Homo sapiens: one gene and its partner. Changing the gene in region 2 together with the main gene of any one other region gives a genetic interaction. Each region holds a gene or a part of one and is shown on either strand. Other genes may lie near its edges.

What was found.
Region 1: of SMARCAL1 (region 2) and TOP1, changing one suppresses a phenotype caused by changing the other (phenotypic suppression), as found in Homo sapiens cells (one study listed by BioGRID).

Annotation. Positions count from the first base shown.
Region 1 is NC_000020.11:41,094,814-41,101,838, reverse strand, and holds part of TOP1 (DNA topoisomerase 1), read right to left. Parts: intron 4,620-7,025; coding exon 4,498-4,619; intron 3,846-4,497; exon of another isoform or gene 3,625-3,845; coding exon 3,502-3,624; exon of another isoform or gene 3,015-3,501; intron 1,784-3,014; coding exon 1,596-1,783; intron 1,182-1,595; exon of another isoform or gene 1,047-1,181; intron 668-1,046; exon of another isoform or gene 631-667; coding exon 486-630; intron 1-485. UniProt on the Homo sapiens protein: Releases the supercoiling and torsional tension of DNA introduced during the DNA replication and transcription by transiently cleaving and rejoining one strand of the DNA duplex.
Region 2 is NC_000002.12:216,408,247-216,415,507, reverse strand, and holds the start of SMARCAL1 (SWI/SNF-related matrix-associated actin-dependent regulator of chromatin subfamily A-like protein 1), read right to left. Parts: upstream 3,025-7,261; 5' UTR 2,860-3,024; intron 2,744-2,859; exon of another isoform or gene 2,710-2,743; intron 1,653-2,709; 5' UTR 1,616-1,652; intron 862-1,615; 5' UTR 804-861; coding exon 1-803. UniProt on the Homo sapiens protein: ATP-dependent annealing helicase that binds selectively to fork DNA relative to ssDNA or dsDNA and catalyzes the rewinding of the stably unwound DNA. Rewinds single-stranded DNA bubbles that are stably bound by replication protein A (RPA).

The DNA.
Region 1 (7,025 bases), on a different chromosome or scaffold from region 2:
ATGAGACTGCAGGAAGCCAGAAGTATGTAAGACATTAGATTTTACAACTTGTTTCAGGATATACAGAAACTACATTCCCTTCTCATAACCAAGAGAGGTGAGGAAGTAGAAGACATCTGCAGAGGCCAATATACAATCACCATACTTCAACACATTCTGACCACTGGACGTTAAGCAATATGAAGGCAGGGCCTACGTCTATCTTGTTTACCAACATAATTCCTAGCATCAAATGTATACTGTGTGGGGCACATTTGGGATTTCAGTAAATATTTGTGAATTAATAAATAAGATTACAATGTGACCAAAAAAATGGAGGCACTGTAGGAAGATCACCATAATGCTAACTATGAAAGTACTTGCCTTCTTTCAATGGGGAGGATTTTTAATTTGTCAAAGTGATTCTAGAGGACGAGAACGTTACATTTCAACAAAAAAAGGTTATCAGCACCATGAACCAGTGCAGCTCTCAACTATCCCCTTACCTTGATTCGTGAACTAGGGTTAAGCATGATGTATTTAATGGAACCTTGGATGTTCTCTGTCCAGGAAACCAGCCAAGTAACCTTGTTATCATGCCGGACTTCTTTCCACTTATGTCCTGGAGGAGGAGAAGGAACCTTGGCATCTCTGGAAATAACAGAGCACGAGGATAGTGAAATAAGATGTGAGGAATAATTTCACCTTTCATGACCCCAAGTGGACCTATCTGCTGAGCATAATTTTCCAAGTTTCCTTCTTAACAGTCAATACAGTAGTCCCACCTTATGCATGGTTTTACTTACCCTCAGCCAACTGTCATCCGAAAATATTCAATACAAAATTCCAGAAATAAACATTTTGTAAGTTTTAAATTGCACATCATTCTGAGGAGCATGATGAAATCTCTTGTAGTCCCACCTGGGATGCGTGAACCATATATACAACATACCATGCTGTATATGTCACTTGCCCATGGGTAACCTAGTAGCTGCCTTATTTATCAGGTTGACTTTAATGGTTTTACATTGCTTGTGTTCAAGTAATCCTTCTTTTACTTAATAAAGGCCCCAAAGTGTGAAAGTGGTGATGTTGGCAATTTGGATATGCCATACAGAAGCTGCACAGAGTGCTTTAAATGAAAAGGTGGAAATTATCGACTTAATAAAAAAAACTGTATGGTGAAGTTGCTAAGATCTAAGGTAAGAATTAACCTTCCATCTGTGAAATTGTGAAGAAGGAAAAAGAAAGTCGTGCTAGTTTTGCTGTTGTGCCTCAGACTGCAAAAGTTATAGCCACTCTATGTGATAAGTACTTAATAAACATGGAAAAGACATTAAATTTGGGGGTGGAAGACATCAACAGAAATGTGTTCCAAGTGACAGCAATTGGGTCGAAGTTGCAGGCATCCACTGGGGGTCTTGGAACATATCCCCTGTGGATGAGGGGAGACAACTGTACCTCAAAAACATCTGGAGACCTACGCATGAAATACTGTCCTGCTCTTAAGTATCTCCCTTCCCAAACAGTCCTGTGTAACCTGGGAAATATTCCCAAGTACAATAAAGGACGCCCTCCACCCCCTTTTTGGCCCATAGGATGAAGTGCGAGCTCACTTGCTACAGTTGATGATTATATCCTCGGGCATGATTCGTCTCTTCAGCATGCCCATCTTGGGGTGGTTGCCGCGGCCACGGAAAAGTCCAGGAGGCTCTATCTTGAAGTTAGCAATCCTCTCTTTGTGGTTATCCATAATACAGAATCCATATTCTTTCAGTAATTTTTCATTCTCCTCTTTGATTTTCTGGAAGACAGCAAGAAAGTACTCAAAATAGATTCAGATTGCTGTTCTCTACTAATGCATTTTATCTCTTGTGGGAGACTAAGTCAAGGTAGAGGAAAGTCTGAAAAATCACTAAAAAATAAATTCAAATAAAGGAAAACCTCTAGTGGTTTTCTCAAACTTAAATATCATAAAATTCCCCAAAAAGATCTGCCTATAAGGATTGATTTCAACTAGATTCAAAACTGATTCTTGTGTCTTAAAGGATATATGTTTGTAAATGTTATTTGGGTGTTTTTAAATGTACTTTAAAAATTCATACTGTTTTACTGAGTACTATCAAAACAGGAAATGGAGAAGAGTCTCTGATAGAGCCTCATAAAAGAATAGCTCAAGCCATTTAATTAAACAGCAGTTAAACAGCTTAAAAACGTGGGTTTTTAAGCTCAGACAGATCTGTCACTAATTTTTTTGTAGGTATACAGGTATATACACTCTATACTATGATCCTTGCTCCAAAAAGGTGAGGGATGGTGGGGGAGATTTTGAGCCTCCTTACCCTCTATTGACTCTGCGTTTTATATACTTATTGATTCAGTTTAACTAAGTTGTGCTGCCTTGTGGGTGGGAACAGATTCAGACCTTGCTGGCAGCAGGTGTCCTTGGCAGAGGCTCTGACAAGGGGATGTTTATAAAATCTATCTTTGGATCAATATTCTAAGAACAAAGCTCCAAAGTGATCTTTTAAGTTTCAAAATGCCCCTGAAGTAAATAATATACTAAATTTCACTAACTTGGAATATTGAGGATAAGATTTACCTGAGACACAAAGTCTGATGCAATTAACATTCTTATAGTAATGCATTAATTTTTAAACTAGTGACCAAATAAGTACCATGAAACAATGAGTTATATCAATACAATGGTCTGAATTACGTAAACACGCAAGTCCTTTAAAATACTGAAACTACAGGAATTTGAAGTGCAAAGAATTCCTTAAAATCCTTAACTTCTGGACTTCCGATTGGTAAAAATGAAATTCTAGCCTGGATTCCTTTAGTTCAGGGGCTGACAACTTTTTCTAGATAGAAAATATTTTAGGCTTGAGTGCCACACAGTCTCTTTTGCAACTACTCTCTTTTGCAACTACTCATCTCTGTCATTGTTGCATAAACACAGCCGTAGATAATATGTAGACAAGTAGAGGCAGCTGGTTCCAATAAATTTTTTTTTTTTTTTTTTACAAAAACAGGCAGCCTGTAGAAGAAAAATGACATCCCAGCTGGATACCAGAAAGATCCTTCAGTAATGAGGATGGCCAAGGCTGGAAGATGGAGATGGATGAGCATCACAAGATTCCAGAGTAAAATAGATCAAAGAGCAGGGAGGTACATGGCCAATATGATTTCATCTGTCTTAAATCCTTAATATCCAGTAGCCACTGTGGGACAGGTCTGCCCATCCTTAATTACTATATTATTGGCTGGAGTTACTGACTGGTTTTTAGGTCACTGAAGCACCAAGATTCCTGTACAGAGCTACTGAGCAAAGTACTTGTTCACAATTTTCAGTCTAACTAAAACCTTTAAGAAAATTTAGACTTTGAGAACTCTAAGTCTTTAGCATAGAATGATGTGAAATTACTGATGTTAATGTTGTGTCATAAGAACCAAGAAGAAAGTTAAATGAACCAATCACAATTCCAGAATTCTCCAGAGGTTTAATAAATTCTGTAGTACCAGTTTCTCTTCCTTGCTCATCTGTTTCCGAGCTTCCGTCTGGGCTTTGAAATACTGGCTCATCTGGGTAAAATCACATTTGCTTAGGTTGGTGATAATATTCTTCTCTTCATTAGTCATTTCCTAGTCAAAAGAAAATGGGGAGATGAAAGAAAAACAACGAAAATACACTAATAAGTCCTTGGGTTTCTTTGCAAATACACCCAAGCACCATTTTTTCAGTCAAAGGTTTCTGGAAGTAGCCAATCTCAATTAATGAATTTTGAAAAAACAAAAAAATACAGTTGTATTACTTTATTATAAAATATGTACTTACTAATATTAAAATGTTTTAAAATGACTTATCATGGAAAAAAATGAATTCTTATGTGGTTTCTTAGACTCCGTGGCACACAGCCCCCAGGCATTATGAATACAAGTTTGAAATCCCATACTGATTCTCTCTTGGAAACATTACCCCTATTCTATTCATTTATTAAGTCTGCTTTTTCTGAGCTAGTTCAGGAAGTAAACTTTACTGCTGCCTCTGTCCACATTATCCAAATTGAGAATAATGAGATTTTAAAAAATCACCTAGGCAAATATAGTATATGTGGTTTCAAGAGTAGAAAGTACCTAAAATAAATGAGCAAGAATTAACAGCGAGAGGGACATCAGATTAACATTTCTCTTTGCAACAGCAGACACGGGGCAGTCCTGCAGCGACAAACTTTCCTGTGCGCAACTGGAGTTGAGGTTTTCTGTTTGGCCTAATCTGATAACCCCCACCTACCTGCCATCACATGAGAGCCAATAGCAAAGATATACAAGTACTCTTGTTGGACAGAAACCCTACATAATATAGTAAATGAAGACAAAAAATACGCAAGTTTAAATACAACAAAATCCATACAACTCAAATTTTACATCAGGAAATGTTTTGCAAAATGATAATTTATTACTTAGTACTTGATTGTTTTGCAAGGTACTAGGATATTAACACATGGGCTACAGTACCTTTCTCCAGTCTTTAAAGAAATTTTTCCTAAATATTTCCTTGGTAGTATATTCATGGTCGAGCATTTTTGCAAAGAACGTAGCTACTTCCTCTGCTTTGGGGCTCAGCTTCATGACTTTACCTAGAGAAAAAAGTGGTTCCAAAAAGTGAGGTATAGTATTCATGTTCTAAGCATAAATACCCAGGGCTAGCGAATTCTCTTTAATAATGGTTTGCCTTCTCATGGTATATAAAGGTCTGGTGACACATAGTAGCAACAACAACAAAGACAACATACTGATTTATATCTACTTGTACAAATTCTCCTTCTCTTTAGCATATATTTACCTGGGTCATTCTCTGGAGACTATGCCAGTTAATTGTTCCCAGGTGCCTGCTCAGGACAGGGATGACCTGGGGGAGGCCCAGTCACTCTTCCTTTTCCTTTCAGCAAGCAGGGTCCTTTACACCTCTTCAATGGTTTTTAAAAATCAAATCCTCAGAGGGACTCCTGCCACTGCTAAGCTAAGCAGCCTCTGTTCAAGAAGGGGAGGAAGGGATAGGGCAGGGAGTGGAAGAAAGGAATTGTGGGGAAAAGAAATAGGCATCTTTCTTCTTCAAAGTTAGGTGGGTGGAATATGAATAAAAAAATATATATCCATACTAGGCAAGCCCAGATTTCCCATATGAAAAGCCTAATAAGACCTTCTTCTAGAACTTTGCTATTCAACAAGTGGTTCACAGACCAGCAGCATTGGCATCATGTGGGAGTTTAGAAATGCAGAATCCCAGGCCCCCTCCTAGACCTACTGAATCCTATACAGAAATTGCATTTTTAACAAGACTTGGATGCACACTAGAGTTTGCGACACACTGCTCTGGAACATGGGTACCATGATGCTGCCTCTTTCAGGGAACCAGGATGCATCCACAGCACAAGGGATGACTGGGGTTCCTGGTGTATCCAATTGTTTATGTAAAAGCTGTCTAAAGGGGCTGGGAGCAGTGGCTCATGCCTGTAATCCCAGCACTTTGGGAGGCTGAGGCAGGCAGATCACTTGAGGTCAGGAGTTCCAGATCAGCCTGGCCAACATGGCGAAAACCCATCTCTACTAAAAATATAAAAAATTAGCCGGGCGTGGTGGTGGGAGCCTGTAACTCCAGCTACTCAGGAGGCTGAGGCATGAGAATCGCTTGAACCCAGGAGGCAGGGGTTGCAGTGAGCCAAGATCACGCCACTGCACTTCAGCCTGGGCAACAGACTGAGACTGTCTCAAATAAACAAAAAGCTGTCTAAAGGGACTCAGATGTTTTCACAATGAAAGCTGCTAACTGGTAAAGAAAATCTGAATAGGGCCTATGGGTTTTATATACCTGATTTAGTTAATAAAGCAATGAAAGAAAAGTACTTGGGAATTTAATCCACTTTTCAAACAAATGCTTTTGACAGTACTCTTAGTGCCAATTTCCATTCTTTCTTAAAAATCCAACTTTACAACATCACCTCGAACCAATCCATGCTATACTAAGAGCATTTGGCTATACTTAAAATGAGGTTAACTATAATTCCACCACCTTACTATTACACAGGTATTAATAATTCACCAAGGCTGCCCACATTCTTTATAGAAAACTAAAATTTAACCAGAAATCCATTTATTTCAAAACTCAGAAGACATCTTATCTCATAATGATATGCAATCTGACTTTGCAGGGGTGTAGAGAACTGTAGCACAATATTGAAACAGTTATAATAGAAAGAACCCACTTTGGACGCCATTAACTTAAAAGGCCAACAGGTGGCGCAGCTGCCCCCATCAACCCCCAAGCTTCTGCTTTGGAAGAAAGACACTTCGGGGAAGATAGGCTGTGTATTAAAAGATTCCCTGAACTTCTTTAGAAAACTGTAACATGTTTCCAATATAAAGGAAAACATTAAGTCATTAGGAATAAAATAAATGAAATAAAATGGCAAGAAAAAAATGTAAACTGTTAACACCATTTAAAAAAAAATGTGGCTGAGCATGGTGGTTCACATCTGTAATCCCAGCACTTTAGGAGGCGGTGCAAGGATCACTTCAGGTCAGGAGTTCCAGACCAGCTTGACCAACATGGTAAAACCCTGTCTCTATTAAAAATACAAAACTTAGGTGTGGTGGCACGTGCCTGTTAATTTCAGCTACTTGGGAGGCTGAGGCATGAGAATCGTTTGAACCTTGGAGGTGGAGGCTGCAGTGAGCCAAGATTGTGCCACTGCACTCCAGCCTGGGTGACAGAGTGTGACTCTGTCTCAAATAAATAAATATAAAAATAAATTTAAAAAAAATGAGATTTTGGGCTGTTTTACTGAATTCTGTCCTAATAGAGGGAGAAGCAACTGTGACTCCTCCTATTTTAGATGAGCTGTCAAAAGATGAAATGATGGCTCCCTGCATCAGAGTAGTGGGAGGATGACTGGAAGGTTCCTGGCAATGTTAACACTTTGTGGAAAAGGCTGAGCTCCAGGAAAAGGAAACTGCTGAATCAAAGCTGTAAACTGAAGGTCCTC
Region 2 (7,261 bases):
TTGCTGGGCAGGGTCTTAAACACTGCAATGAGTTCCGCATTGTACCCAATCAACACCTGGAAACGATCGCCGTTCCTTACGCACTTTCCCTTCTGAGAGTTCACTCCTTTTTGGACTGAGGACCCTGACTTCTGCTGGAGTCTTCCTTCTGTCCTGGGCGTTACACTCTCTGAGCTAGAATGGATGTAAGAAATGTTCTGCCCCGAAGGGGAGGCTTTTGCTGTCTTGGCCTCTAACTTAGCATCCCTGGGAGGCTGTCCAGAGGAATGAGCTGGTGTCTCTTGGGAACTCTTTGGTTTGGCCAGAGGCTTATGAGTTGGGTTAGCAAAGGGTGTGAACCTGATCTCAGGTGAAGCCTGAGCATGACCTTGACCTAACTCATAACTCAAGAGCTGTTGTTTAGGGACCTCTGGAGGACTTTGTGCCAAGGGAGGAGAGATTCCAGTGAGAGCCATTTGACTACGTGGACTGTGGCCTGGGCAGGCTGTGGGCATTTCTTCTGGCTTTTTCCATATTCCCTTTGCCTGAAAACTGTGGGAATCATGAGGTCTTTGGTCAGCATTAGATGAGCTACTGAGATTCTGTTGCTTGAAAATGACACCATGGCTCACTGGCTTACAAGACTCCCTTGGGAAATTTTGGGATGGGCCTTGCTTGGCCTGGAATGGGTTGCCAGCAATGGAGGTGCCCGAGCTAGTCCTCTGATGCTGTTCTGCCAATAACTTCTCAGCTCTGCGGGCCAGAGCCTTTTGTCGATTCTCTTCAATCTTTTTCCTCTGCTCCTCTGTAAGAGGCAAGGACATTTTCACAGAGAAATGCTTATGCAGGAATGTCAACCTTTAATTGGAAAGTTGGCAAAAGCTGTGGAAGAAAGTAAGAAGAATGAAATGAACATTACATGTATTAATTGTCATACTCCAACCATGATTTTAACAAGCTTTTGTCCCAGAAAATGCATAATGAGCACAACTAAAGGATGTATTAAAGTTTCTTTTATAATTGCACACACACTGAAATAGTAGGCAGCATATGCTGAAATAAAGACCCTGATCAAAAAGCAAAAAGCAGGTCGGGTGTAATCCCAGCACTTTGGGAAGCTGAGGCAGGTGGATCACTTGAGGTCAGGAGTTTGAGACCAGCCTGGCCAACATGGTGAAACCCCATCTCTACTAAAAATACAAAATTAGCCAGGCGTGGTGGTGCACGCCTGTAATCCCAGCTACTTGGGAGGCTGAGGCAGGAGAATTGCTTGAACCTGGGAGGCAGAGGTTGCAGTAAGCCAAGATCGTGCCACCGCACTCCAGCCTGGGCAACAAGAACAAAACTCTCAAAGAAAAAAAAAAAAGCAAAAAGCAAATCCAAAGCTAAAAAGGCATTTCAGAGGCAATATTTCTCTCCTTCTCACATGGTAACTCACATGGTAACTCAATGGTTCGAAGCACTGCCAAAATGGTGAGTAACTCTTCTGATAACTCACATGGCCCAGCCAAGGTGAGTTATCAGAACCTAAGAAAGTTATGCATTGCAACGTAAATCCATCAGATAATGAGAAAGGTGACATTTTTAACCAGAAAGCATAATAGATTAGACTGAAATAGACCAACCAACCACATACCATGGCGTGACACTTGCTAACATAGTCTTTTTCCAACCTAGAAGAAGGAAAAAAGCATTAGCCTCCCATAGCCTGCACACTGAATTCTCCCCTCACATTCACCCCTTTTTATCATTCCTGGCAAATCAGTCTGCCTGTGGCTCAGTGCAAGCCAGAGCAGCTGGCCTTAGGACCTGACTTCCAACACAACACACGGAGCAACTGACTGACTCTCCTGGGAAAATAAGGAGCAGAAAAAAAAAAATTATGTGTTCACTGTGCAAATTAAGATGCTACATAAAGATGTAAACAAAAAAGAATAAAATTACTCTGTAATCTTACCAGCCATCAATAACCACAGTTGAAATTAATAATTTAGAGTATATAGTTCGGATTTTTTTTCATCCATAACAAAATGGCACATATTTAGGAGATATAAGAATTTATTATAAAGTAGGATCATTGTAAACATTCCATATTGCACCCTGATTATTTTTTTCCATGAATTTACCCGGAACATTTATTTTCCTATGAGCTGAGACATGTTTACAATATTTTAGAAGCAGCGGGCAGGACACACCAATTTGTCTGGCTTGGTTCAGACTAAATAGGCTGCATCTAATGTAATGCTGTGTAACGGTTACAATGATGATGTAGGGGTACTCCAGTAGCATTGCTTAGGCCTCTGGGCAGCTATAGGGTTCAAAGCCTTCCTTCCCTGCTGGGGCTCCCTTTGGCCAGAACCCAACCCCCCTCCCCCCTCCCCCACCACGAAGTATCTATCCCCAGAGAACTTCCACCTTCTCCAACCATTAGCAGTTAGGAAGGGGTGAAGAGGTTAGGAAAAGGTTTTGGAGGTGCACAGCAGAAGCCCTCAGTCTCTCTGGGTAACACACTCCTGCCTAAGTTTCCAACCAGGGATCTCCTGCACCTCCAAACTCCCCAGATCCCAGGCCTGGTAAGCTGTCTCCACTAACCAGAGAGACTCGGCCATAAGACCCACTGATCAGCCCCAAACCATAAATCCATTCCGCCACATGGACGCCCCTCTTCCCCTCTAGGCAGGGACCTCTGCCCCCCGCCCCCCACGCCCCGCATTTCGGGGCGAGCCTCACCCAGCCTCAAGGTAAGCGGGCGCCACGCCCCACTCCCACCCCTACGATCTCCACTTGGATTCACCCTTCCCATTGGCCCACTTCCTCCTCCAGGCTGGCATTGGTCTCGTCCGCCTCCGCCGCCTTCCTGCCAGTCTACCACTTTCTCACCCAGGGAGGCCTAGAACGCGAGCCACATTCGCCCCCGGCCCTGACCCCAGGCGCGACTGCAGAGCCTCCCGAGCGGGACCGGTCTTCCGAGTGGACGGTTAGGCCACGGGTATTCAAGCGCTGCGAGTTCGCCAGCCTTATTGTAGCGGCCAGGCCTGAAGGGCTAGGCCACCGCTGAACTACATTTCCCAGCAGGCAACGCGGCCGCAGTTTCGCTTCCAAAAGTAAGAATGATGAGACGAGAACGCGAGCGGGGCTGCAGTGTCTTCTGGGATTTGTAGTTCGGGCCGGGAGCCTGGCGAGAAACGGGAGCTGCAACGTCATGGGCGGGGCGAAAGTGGTGCACCCTGGAAGTTGTAGTTCTCCAGAGGTTTAGCCAAACACTAGGTCCTGAAAGCCTAGGACGTTGAGGTTTCCAAACCCGGAGTCGGCTGTCTCCAGAGGACATCCCAGACAGCCATACTAACTTGGCAGCTCTTAATAAAAAGTATCTCCCCGGGGCATCCATTCCTGGTATTGCTATACTTGCCATTTAAGCCCCACCCGCTGCGCCCGGCTGCCATCATCGTCATCATTGTAGTCATCAGTCATTGTGTTTAGCATAAATATGAGTTACCTCATTTAACCGCACTACAACCTATGGAACACATTCTTGTCCCCCTTTTACAGAGGGGGAAACTAAGACAGCTATTTGATAATATTTCTCAAGGCTTTATTAAGCTAGCTTGTGATTCTGATTCCATAGCCCCTCCTCTTGAGAGAAGATTAGTCATGAGACTTAAAGAGTCACTTTACCCCATCCTGAGCACCAACATCCTGAGCCATCCTGAGCACCATTGGTGATAAATATAACATTTCTCTATCAGTGTGCATATGAATGTTGCTATTGTTCTATTTTCAAACATGGCTCATTTAAAAACAAACAAGTCTACTAAAGGATTTGAAAAAATGGACCAGACATGCTAAGAAAAAGGAAGCACAGCAATGTGTGTAGTTTGATTTTTTTTTTTTTCATCCTTACCTGTACATGTATGTAAACTCATAAAGGTCTGGGAAGGAAACTTAAAAAGTCACCAAACTGTTCAGGAGCAGAGTGGCATGAAATACACTTTTCAGCTTTTTAATCTCTATTTTTCAGAATGATTTGAATTTTCTAAAATAATAATGTAGAATTTGTGTGACTTTTGAAACAATAAATAATCTCCCTTCTTCCTTCCTTCCTTTTTTTTTTTTTTTTTTTTTTTTTTTTTTTTTTTGAGACAGAGTCTCACTCTGTTGCCTAGACTGAGTGTGGTGGTGTAATCTTGGCTCACTTCAGCCTCTGACTCCTGGGTTCAAATGATTCTCCTGCCTCAGCCTCCCAAATAGCTGGGATTATGGGTGCATGCCGCCATGCCTGGCTGATTTTAGTAATTTTAGTAGAGACAGAGTTTTACCATGTTGGCCAGGCTGGTCTCAAACTCCTGACCTCAAGTGATCCACCTGCCTCAGCCTCCCAAAGTGCTGGGATTACAGGTGTGAGCCACTGCGCCCAGCCCATTTGTCTTAAATGACAAAGACATTGCCTGTCTTAGGGGATCTGTGTGAGGTTTAGTAGTAGAAAGTATTCAAATCTCAGCTCTACCCCTTTTATTGACCTGACATACCCAGTGATTGTGCCTCCATTTTCTCATCTGTAAAGTAAATGTAGAAAACAATACCACCTTGGTAAATCTTGTTATTAGAATCAAAGCAAGGTATTATGAGGGGAAGTGCTTAGTGAACTGTGAAATCCCAGAACAGGTAAGAGAGGGATGTTGTTATTATTTGAGGTAAATCTCTTATATCGTCCGTTTCTCTATACCTAGCGCTCATTTCCTACTGTATAGTGTGAACAGAAACTAGTTAATGAACACCTGTCCCTGCCCTTCCTGTCTCCCAACAGTCAGTTAATTTACTAAGAAAGCTGGGTGCCGTGCACTTGACTCATGTCTGTCACCGATTCATATGACCATCACTTCGCTTTCCTGGGCCTCAGTCGTCTCACCTGTAAAATGATACCCTGCTTTGACATATGCTAAGAGGGCCTGTGGACCAGTGGATCCTCATGTTAGATACTAGAATTCTTATAGATTCACAGATCTTACCCCAGAAATTCCAATTCAGTAAGTCTGGAATTGAGTTAGAAGATGTGATTACCTTTCTAGCTCTAACATTCTAAAATTCTAAGAATAGGAAATTAAAATATGCCTTTGAGGCCGGGTGTGGTGGCTCATGTCTATAATCCCAGCACTTTGGGAGGCCAAAGCAGGCAGATCACCTGAGGTCAGGAGTTCGAGACTAGCCTAGCCAATATGGTGAAACCTCATCTCTACAAAACCCCATCTAATACAAAAAGTAGCTGGGCGTGGTGGTGCATGCCTGTAATTCCAGCTACTCAGGAAGCTGAGGCAGGAGAATCGCTTGAACCCTGGAGGCGGAGGTTGCAGTGAGCTGAGATCATGCCATTGCACTTCAGCCTGGGCAACAAGAGTGAAACTCCATCTCAACAACAAAAAAAAATGCATTTGGGGGGAATAATCATCTTCAGAAAGTAAACTAATTAGACCCCACTCAATAGTTGCATCTTTGCTTTGTCAGTAGCATCGTTTACTGAGGTCTTACTGTATGCAAGGCTTTTTAAAAAACTGTATTTCACCAGTTCTTAAGGTAGATTATAATGAAACTTCATTTAGTAAAAAAAGTTTAAAGGCCTGGAAGAAAACACAGGAAACAAGGAGTGAAAGGAGAGGAGAAGACAGCTGTAGCGGTCAAGCTGCAATTTGACTTTGAGCTTCCTAGCAGATAAGCAAAAATGTCCAGAAGTCATATAAGACCTTCAACCAAACACAGCACAGCTGAAGCTCCCAAACACTGGTCACCTGAGCAGTGCCAAAATGGTTCAGAGCATCACCTGGTTGCCTCAGAAACAAGCAAACAAAAGGATAATGTAATGAATATGTTGTAAAACTAAATTTTTACAATTAATTATAAAATCCTGAGAGTCTATTTAATAGGTTTTAAAGTTTAACTGGTTTTTCTTTAGTAAAGTGATGATTATTATAAATACCTTTATTGGGCAAAATAAAAATTTGTTTTTTCTTCCAAAACTTAATCCAATAATGTTTAGTCAGTGAAATCCAAAAAGCTGGCAGACACCACCATAAGGGAATCCAAAGATGAGTAAGGTCCAGTTTTTCTCCCTCCAAAAGGTTACAGTATTTGGAGAACAGAAGACAAATAACTAGAACAGCCAGATTTAACAAATGTCTCAAATATTTGTCCCAAATATTGTGTGGGACATACTTACACTAAAAATGGATTTAAACATATCTGAAATTCAAATGTAACTGGGCATACTGTATTTTACTCGACAGCCTCCTATTATTTGTAGCTCAGGACTTAGTTGAGCAGCAAGCAAATATGCATTGATAGATGATTCATGGATATATTGACACATTGCATTTTAAAGCTAGAAGGAGCTTTAGAGACCATCTGGTTTCATAGGTGAGGGAATAGAGGCCAGATCGGCTGCCAGTCCATATGGCACCTGTGTTAGTCTGCTCAGGCTACAAAAAAAAAAACAAAAAAAAAAAAACACCACTATAGACCGGGTGGCTTAAACAACAGAAATTTATCTTCTCACAATTCAGGAGGCTGCAAAGTCCAAGATCGAGGTGCCAGCCATTGATTTCTGGTGAGGACCCTCTTCCTCTCTATGTCCTTATGCAGTGGAGAGGGAGAGAGCACAGCCCCCTCTTGTGTCCCTTCTTAGGACGCTGATCCTGTCATATCAGAGTCTTGCCCTTAGGACCTCACTGAACCGTCATTCCCTCCTTGCAGGTCTTGTCTCCAAATATGGTCACAGTAGGGGTTAGGCCTTCAATATGTGAATCTCGGGAGGACACAGTTCAGTCCATAGCAGCACCTTTGTGTGTTGTAAAAACACACCCCTTTCTCCCAGGAAAGGAGCCTGGCTCCAGGACCCACTGCAAGCAGAGCATTGCCAGCCCCCAGCGGGGTGCCCCGGCCAAGTGGCAGTCTTGCTGCTTCCCCAGAAGAATACTTCGATTTTGCCAAAGCTACTTCCTCAGGTGGAAGAAATTGATTTCCCATCTCTCTGGAGTAATCATCCCTCCCCAATTCATGCAGACTTGGAAGAGTGTTAATCAGGGGGCCTCATCCTCGGGGAAGTCAGTGGATGCAAGATACGAGGGAAAACACCAGACCCCCTCCTTCTGGGAACTTAATCTGCAAGGATATGATACAATGAGAAAAAGACAACTGAACCGATATAGCCCAGCAGTGGCTTTGAATGGAGCCTGTTCCTTAGTTCCTGTCACCCAGCTTCGAGAGTCACCCTGACCCTGTTATTCCTGAGCCT